2 linked regions of the Homo sapiens genome follow. The protein of the gene in region 1 interacts with the protein of each later gene in a pairwise test. Each region holds a gene or a part of one and is shown on either strand. Other genes may lie near its edges. The genes, in order: MARK2 and KIFAP3.

Region 1 (3,821 bases):
AGCTACATGGTCATAACTGCTTCAACGCCCTCATCGCCACCCAAAACTTACATGAACCTTTATTTTTTATTTATTTATTTTTTTGAGACAGAGCTTTACTCTTGTTGCCCAGGCTGGAGTGCAATGGTGCGATCTCAGCTCACCGCAACCTCCACCTCCCGGGTTCAAGCAATTCTCCCACCTCAGCCTCCCGAGTAGCTGGGATTACAGTCATGCGCCACCACGCCTGGCTAATTTTGTATTTTCAATAGAGATAGGGTTTCTCCATGTTGGTCAGGCTGGTCTCAAACTCCTGATCTCAGGTGATCCGCCCGCCTTGGCCTCCCAAAGTGCTGGAATTACAGGCGTGAGCCACTGCGCCCAGCCATAATAACTTTGTTGGGTAGAAACGTAGTAGCCCTTCCTGCATGGAAGGACTGCATGGCCGAAGTCGAACCCGAGTCTCCCGCGTAGGAGACGAAATTTCTGCCGCTGAACTACGAATGCCCCACTGAACCTTTGTTATTTATCACTTTACATTTATTTGCCATCTCCCCCAGTAAAAATGGAAGCACATGAAAGCAGGCATATATTCTTTATTCACTGATACATCCCAGCACTTAGAGAGACTGGCTTATGTTTGCTGCTCAATGAATACTTGTACAATGAAAGAACTGAACGATTAGGTCTGAGCAAGGCAGCAGTCTGCCCTGCTCTGCCACCCGGCTCAAATGAGGGGATGAGGAAGCAGAAGCTACAACTACCAGCACTGAAGAGGCATATAAACATAATACGGGTTGAATATCCTTTATCCAAAATGCTTAGGACCAGAAACGTGGCAGATTTTAAATTGTTTTGGATTTTGGAATATTTGCATATACATAATCAGATATCTCAGGGATGGGACCCAAGTCTAAACATTTATTTTTCATGTGTACATTATATACATGGCCTGAAGGTAATTTCATGACATTTTAAAATAATTTTGTGCATGAAATAAAGTGATTGAATTTTGCTTATAACCTGTCATATGGGGTTACGTGTAGAATTTTCCACTTGTGGCATCATGCTGGCACTCAAAAAGTTTAGATTTTGGAGCATTTTGGCTTTTGGATTACGGATGTTCAACCTGTACAAAAAGGGTATGGTCTAGACAAAAAACATACATCTATGTGAAGACGTGTACATTCCTCAAAGTGCTAAACACAGACTATATGAGCCAGCAATTCCGCTCCTCAGTATATACAAAAGAGAAATGAAAACAGAAATCCACAAAAAACCTGTAACCAAGGTTCACAGCACCATAATCCATAATAGTCAAAAAGTGGAAACAATTCAAATGCCCATCAGCTGGATGAACGGATAGACAAACGTAGCATATCCTTACCGGGGAATATTGGTTGGCAGTAAAAAAGAATATATGCTACAACACAGAAGAAACTTGGATAAACTTATGGTATCTCACTAAAACTGTTCAGAGTCTAGGCCAGGCAAGGTAGCTCATGCCTAAATCCCAGCACTTTAGGAGGCTGAGGCAGGAGGATCACTTGAGGCCAGGAGCTTGAGACGAGCCTGGGCAACATAGGGAGACTCTGTCTCTACAAAAAATTAAGAAATTAAGAAATCTTGGGAGGTTGAGGCAGGTGGATTGCTTGAGGTCAGGAGTTCGAGACCAGCCTGGCCAACATAGTAAAACCTTGTCTCTACTAAAAATACAAAAAATTAGCTGGGCATGGTGGATTACAGGTGCCTGTAATCCCAGCTACTAGGGAGGCTGAGGCAGGAGAATTGCTTGAACCCAGGAGGAGGAGGTTACAGTGAGCTGAGATCGCACCACTGCACTCCAGCCTGGGCAACAAGAGTGAAACTCCGTCTCAAAAAAAAAAAAAAAAAAAAATTAAGAAATCAACTGGGTGTGGTGGCATGCACCTATAGTCCCAGCTGCTCTGGAGGATGAGGCGGGAGGATCGCTTGAACCCAGGAGGAGTTCGAGGCTGCAGTGAGCCATGATCATGCCATTGTACTCCAGCCTGGGTGATAGAGCGAGACCCTGTCTCAAAAAAAAAAAAAAAAAATGCAGAGTCTGGTCTAACTCCTGATTAGCGCCCTGGTTTACATCTCACAAAGAACATCTGGAGCGATCGCTCCAGCATACTGCAACAAAGCATATGAGGCCAGAGCCTCATCCCAGAACCATCCAGAGCTGCCTTGGAAACTTCAAGGAAACAGTCTGGAGGGCAGCAGGGTGACCAGAGGAGTGTGAGTGAAAGTTCTTCCTTTCATGGCCCCTGCTGGCTGTACGTGAAGCACTCAAAAACCACAGAGAAAAAAAGAATGACTTGCTACTACCCAAGGAACTGTCCAGCATTCCTAGACAAGAAGCTTGCTAGCTCAACCAGATGCTTTTCAGGCAGAAACGACAGCAGCAAGTTAAGTACAGTATCCTGATTCTGACATTTCCCCTTCTTCACTGTGCCCACGTAGGGCCTTTGCATGGTAGCTGCAGGCTGTCTTTTGGTGAGCTGTTTGACCAGATCCCAGAAACACATGGGGTTGGACCTTGGAGGAGGAAGATCCCATGCATTTGGTAGATGTTTGAAGGGGGAGGCTCCTCACATCCCAGAAGAGGCCCTTTTAACTTCCTTCTCTCTTCCTCATCAACCTTTGCATCTCCATGAAGCCCCCCAGCTCTTATTGTCTGCTCATTCCAGCCCACAGAGCTCTCTGGTGCTCTGTTCTCCACGCACCCTGTAGCTCACCTAAGCCTGGTTGGTCCTCAAACAGTGTCTGCAAGACAAGTGGATTTTTAAATACCTGCTTTTTTCCCTTCCAAAGGAACTCTAGGGTTCACACCCCTTGGAGAGAAGGGCATTTCTAGGCCCTGCTGGCACCTGATTGGGCCAGCCTCCTGAAGGGTACCCTAGCCCTGTCCAGCAGGGTACTGAAAGCCTGGTCTCCTCAGGCTACCTTTTTCTCAGCCCCATCCTCCCTTTCAGTGCTGCTAGACTGCCTCCAACCCTACCCATCTGCCTAACGGGCAATGAACAGGAAAAAACCTTCCTTCTGCCCCAACTCCTACGAGAGGAAGATGGGTGGGAAAGTTTCCTTGGCAACCTCTAGTTCACCTTCTAAGTTTGTTGTCACTCCCTGTTTCTCCGAGGATATAAGCCCAAGGCAGCAGGAAGTGTGACGGTCTCTAAGTTCTCAAAATCCAGACCAGGGATTTAGCATCTACCTGCAGACTTGGGCCTTTTGCCAACTGAGACCAAATCTGGGCATCCCATGCCCATCCTGAGCTCTGCTCTGCCCATCCCTCTTGGTGAACCGAGGGGCTGGTCTGTGTGGCACAGCAGGTCAGCATTCCCTGCCTGGCCCTGCTGCACAAGTGGGCCTCAAGGAGCTTAACAACCACAAGCAAGATTGTACCATTCATTCTCTTCCTTTCTGGTTAAGACTGTAGATGTCGGAGATAAGCTGCCAGGTTTCAAATCCTAAATCTGTCACCTACTCAGCACATATTAACTTTATTATTATCATCAACATCATCAAGCCAGGCACAGTGGCTCATGCCTTTACAGGCAGCACTTAGGGAGGCAGAGGCAGGAGGATAGCTTGAGCCCAAGAGTTCAAGACCTGCTGTTCACAAAAAGGAAAAAAAAAAAAGAATATATTTAAAAAGGCAATACAGTGAGACCCCCATTCACAAAAAGGAAAACACACACACACACACAAACAAACACAAAAAGCCCCAAAATAAAACAAGTGTAACATCAACATTGTCAAGAAGGAGGTGAGACTATTACAAATGGGGAAGAGAACTACCCAAAAAACGACCAGTGGCC
Region 2 (3,821 bases), on another chromosome or scaffold:
TTATGTGTTGAGACATTGTGTTTCTCCTTTTTCTTAGTTATTTGCACTGGTTTCTTTTTGCTCTTTGGACATATTTAAGACAGTTGATTTAAAGTCTTTGATAAGTCCAGTGTTTGTGCTGTAGCATGGACAGTTTCTGTTAATTTTTTTTATTGTGAGAATGAGAATGAGTTTCTTGTTTCTTTGCATGTTTCATATTTTGTTTTGTTGAAAACTGGGTATTTTGAATATTATGGTATCCAAAGGAAAAAAAGAAAAGAAAAAAATACTCTTCAGATCTTTGTAGGTTGACTCAGTGTTTGGATATGGCTTCAACACTTAGCCAGGCAATTTACAATTTTACCTTAGCCTTCATTTGCTGCTTGCACAGAGCCTGAAGACCAGCCAGAGGTAAAAGCTTATGATCTTCCCAGGTTTTTTCTGGGTATGTATTCTGCCCTGAGCATGCTCATGGATTTCTAGATTTCTCTTTATATGCAATAGCTTTTCAAAGCATCTATTCCCCCAAAATGTCTGACTCCCTGGACTTTCCTCTTGGGCTTTCAGCTTGTGTTTTGTTTGACCCAGCTATTACTATTTATCCCAGGGGCCAGCAGCTTGTATGCTTGGCTTTCACTGATTTCAGTGACTGCATAGCTGCACTATCCTGATAAGAGTTTAAAATTAGTCAAAACAAAGGAAAGCCCCTTGCAGCTGACCTCAAAGGAAACTTCAGTCAGTTGCAAAACAATCAGACAAAATTCCTTGGGAGCAAGGTCCACTTGACTCCTCTAGAACCAAGTATTAACAGTGGGAACGTGGGCTGCCATCTTGAAGACTGCCACTGTGCTTGAGAGTGGGGTGGATGTCTAGGGTAAGTGAAAAGACCATAATGATCGCCTACCTTGTTTCTGTAACCTTTCTTCTGATTAAACATTCACTTGGTTGCTGTAAACCTTTGACTGTCTTCCAGAGTTCTGATGAGGTTGATTGTGATAGGTTTTTTTTGCCAAGTTTTTAGTGCTTCTGGGGAGTGCCAGCCTCTAGAGGTCCCTACTCTGCCGTTTTCACTGATGTCACTTAGCCATTATCTTTTCATATATTGCTCTGTACCCATTCTCTCTCACCTTTTTTCTGGGACTTCAAGTACATATGCTAGACCTACTCAGTATGCATTGCTGAATTATACTTTTGCTTGTGTTTTACATCTTTTTGTCTCTATGTTTTATTCTGGGTGTTTTCTTCTGACTTATATTTTATGCCATAAATTATCTCCTTACCCGTATCTAATCTGCTATTAAACCTATTTATTTATTATTATTCTTAATTTTGGTTATTGTATTTTTAATTCTAGAAATTTAAAAAAATTATCTAGTTTTTTCTGAAGATGACTATTCTTTGAGTATCATATATAGGAATATAAATGTATAAATAATCATTTGAGGCTCAGGATGATGTTCTCTTTTTCCAGAGAAGATTATATTTTATTTATGTTAGTAAGGATTACTGAAAATTTAGGGTCACCTTAATTAGTTCTCAGAGATTCAATTACATTAAACTGGGCTTTTTAGTCTTGTTGGTGACCGATCTGCATCTGTTTCACAGTTACTCCTAGGAGGTAGTCCTCCTGTTTCAAGCTTAAAGCTTGGAGCTTTACCAGAGCCACTGTTGTTTGGTGCACTCTAGAATCCAGTTTTTGTGTCTCTAGCCTCATGTGATTATTAAAAGATTCTCAACCTCTCAGCCCTCTCTTTTCAGTTAGCAGATACCTCTAGGGAAAAGTAGCCTCAAATTCAAGATTTACCTCTCTTCATTTTCTTTTTCTCCTGGATCTTGGCACTGTAATTTTTTGTGCCTTTTTAGTTCTCTTATGGCCTCAAACAGATACACACATACGTGTTTTTGCCCCCAGCTTTTAAGATTTTCTTAGAAGGTGCATTGGTTTGAATTACCTTAATCCTCTGTTTCTCTATTACCAAGTCTAATGTTAGTAATAGAAATATAAAACTTGTTTTGGTTTTACCAATATGAAAAGCATCAGGAATTATAAATATTTGAGTACATATAAGAGATTATTTCCCTCTTAATTTTTTAAAAATACATATGACTTGAAAGCAAAAATTATGAAATTTTTGTGTGAGTTTATAAGGTATGTACACATAATGCATATGACAGCTATAACATAAAGAATGGGGGGGGGGGTGTAGGCAATAGACCTGCAATTTGTGAAGTAGCACAGCATTAATTCTTAAATACCTTGTGAAAAAAAAAAGGTAACTAAAACATTGTTTTTCCTAAAGCAACCACCAAAAACAGTTTTTAAAAGTATAGTGAAAACATCTACACAAAATGGAATTTAAAAAATAATAATTCACAAGGCTGTTAGGAAAATAATCAAAGTATAGTTGGGCCAAACAGGAAATAAAAATGAAGTGATAGATCTGAATCTAAGTATGTCAGTCATTGCATTAAATGATCCAAAACAATAATGTCCAATAGAACTTTCTTCCCTGATGGAAATGACTTACAGCTGCATCATCAAATACATAGCCACTGGCTGTATGGCTAATGAACACTTTGAACGTGGTTAGTACAGCTAAGGAATTGCATTTTTAATTATTTTTAAAATGTAATGTATTTAAATTTAATTTTAAATAGACCCATGTAGCTAGTGACTATTGTATCAGACAGCATAGGTTTTAATGTTCCAATGGAAAGGCAGAGATTACCAATATTTCTTTTTTTTTTTTTTTTTTTTTTTTTTGAGGTGGAGTCTTGCTCTGTCGCCCAGGCTGGAGGGCAGTGGCATGATCTTGGCTCACTGCAAGCTCCGCCTCCCGGGTTCACGCCATTCTCCTGCCTCAGCCTCCCAAGTAGCTGGGACTACAGGTGCCCGCCACCATGCCCAGCTAATTTTTTGTATTTTTTAGTAGAGACAGGGTTTCACCATGTTAGCCAGGATGGTCTCGATCTCCTGACCTCATGATCCACCCACCTCGGCTTCCCAAAATGCTGGGATTACAGGCGTGAGCCACTGCGCCCGGCCACCAATATTTCTTTTATAAAGAAAAAAGAAAAGCAAGACCCAACTATCTGTCATCCCCAAAAAATATACTTTTAAGTATGGACATGGTAAGTTAATGGTAAATGGGTGCAATCAAACAGTAAGCATAAGAATGCTAAAATGACCATATTAATGTCAGATAAAATAGGCTTTAAGAAAACGTATACTGTAAAAACTACAGAGGAGTATTTCATACTGATAAAATCTGCTACATCCAGACAGTTTTAAAGTCAAATTCTAACAAAATTTTTGGGAAACAGATGCTTCCAATTATGTACAACTCTTCCAAGAAGTCTAGAAAAAAAAGGATACTCCTCAACTAATTTATATTAAGATTTTAGAATAATCTCCATATGAAAGTCAGAAAAAGGACATTAGAAAGGAAAATTGCAGGCTGAATGAGCAAGGATGCAAATTTAATCTAACAGTGCTTTAAGACAGCATTAACAAGTTGTGCTTATTCTAAGAATATGAGTATGGTTTTATGTATTTAATGAATTTGATGTAGTATATTTATGAATTAAAGAAGAACAATACATGATCCTCCAATGGATGCAGAAAAACATTTGATGACATTCACTACACATTCATGATTTAAGGAAAAAACTAAAGCCATAAATAAAAGGGAATTATGATATAAACATATTAAATGAGGAAACTAGCCAGGTGTGTTGGCTCATGCCTGTCATCCCAGCACTTTGGGAGGCTGAGGCTGGTGGATCGCTTGAGCCCAGGAGTTCAAGACTAGCCTGGGCAATATGTTGAAACCCCATCTCTA

Evidence for each region.
Region 2: the proteins of MARK2 (region 1) and KIFAP3 interact in a two-hybrid assay, tested with the Homo sapiens proteins (one large-scale study listed by BioGRID).

Annotation. Positions count from the first base shown.
Region 1 is NC_000011.10:63,890,960-63,894,780, reverse strand, and holds part of MARK2 (serine/threonine-protein kinase MARK2), read right to left. Parts: intron 1-3,821. UniProt on the Homo sapiens protein: Serine/threonine-protein kinase. Involved in cell polarity and microtubule dynamics regulation. Phosphorylates CRTC2/TORC2, DCX, HDAC7, KIF13B, MAP2, MAP4 and RAB11FIP2. Phosphorylates the microtubule-associated protein MAPT/TAU.
Region 2 is NC_000001.11:170,064,536-170,068,356, reverse strand, and holds part of KIFAP3 (kinesin-associated protein 3), read left to right. Parts: exon of another isoform or gene 1-853; intron 854-3,821. UniProt on the Homo sapiens protein: Involved in tethering the chromosomes to the spindle pole and in chromosome movement. Binds to the tail domain of the KIF3A/KIF3B heterodimer to form a heterotrimeric KIF3 complex and may regulate the membrane binding of this complex.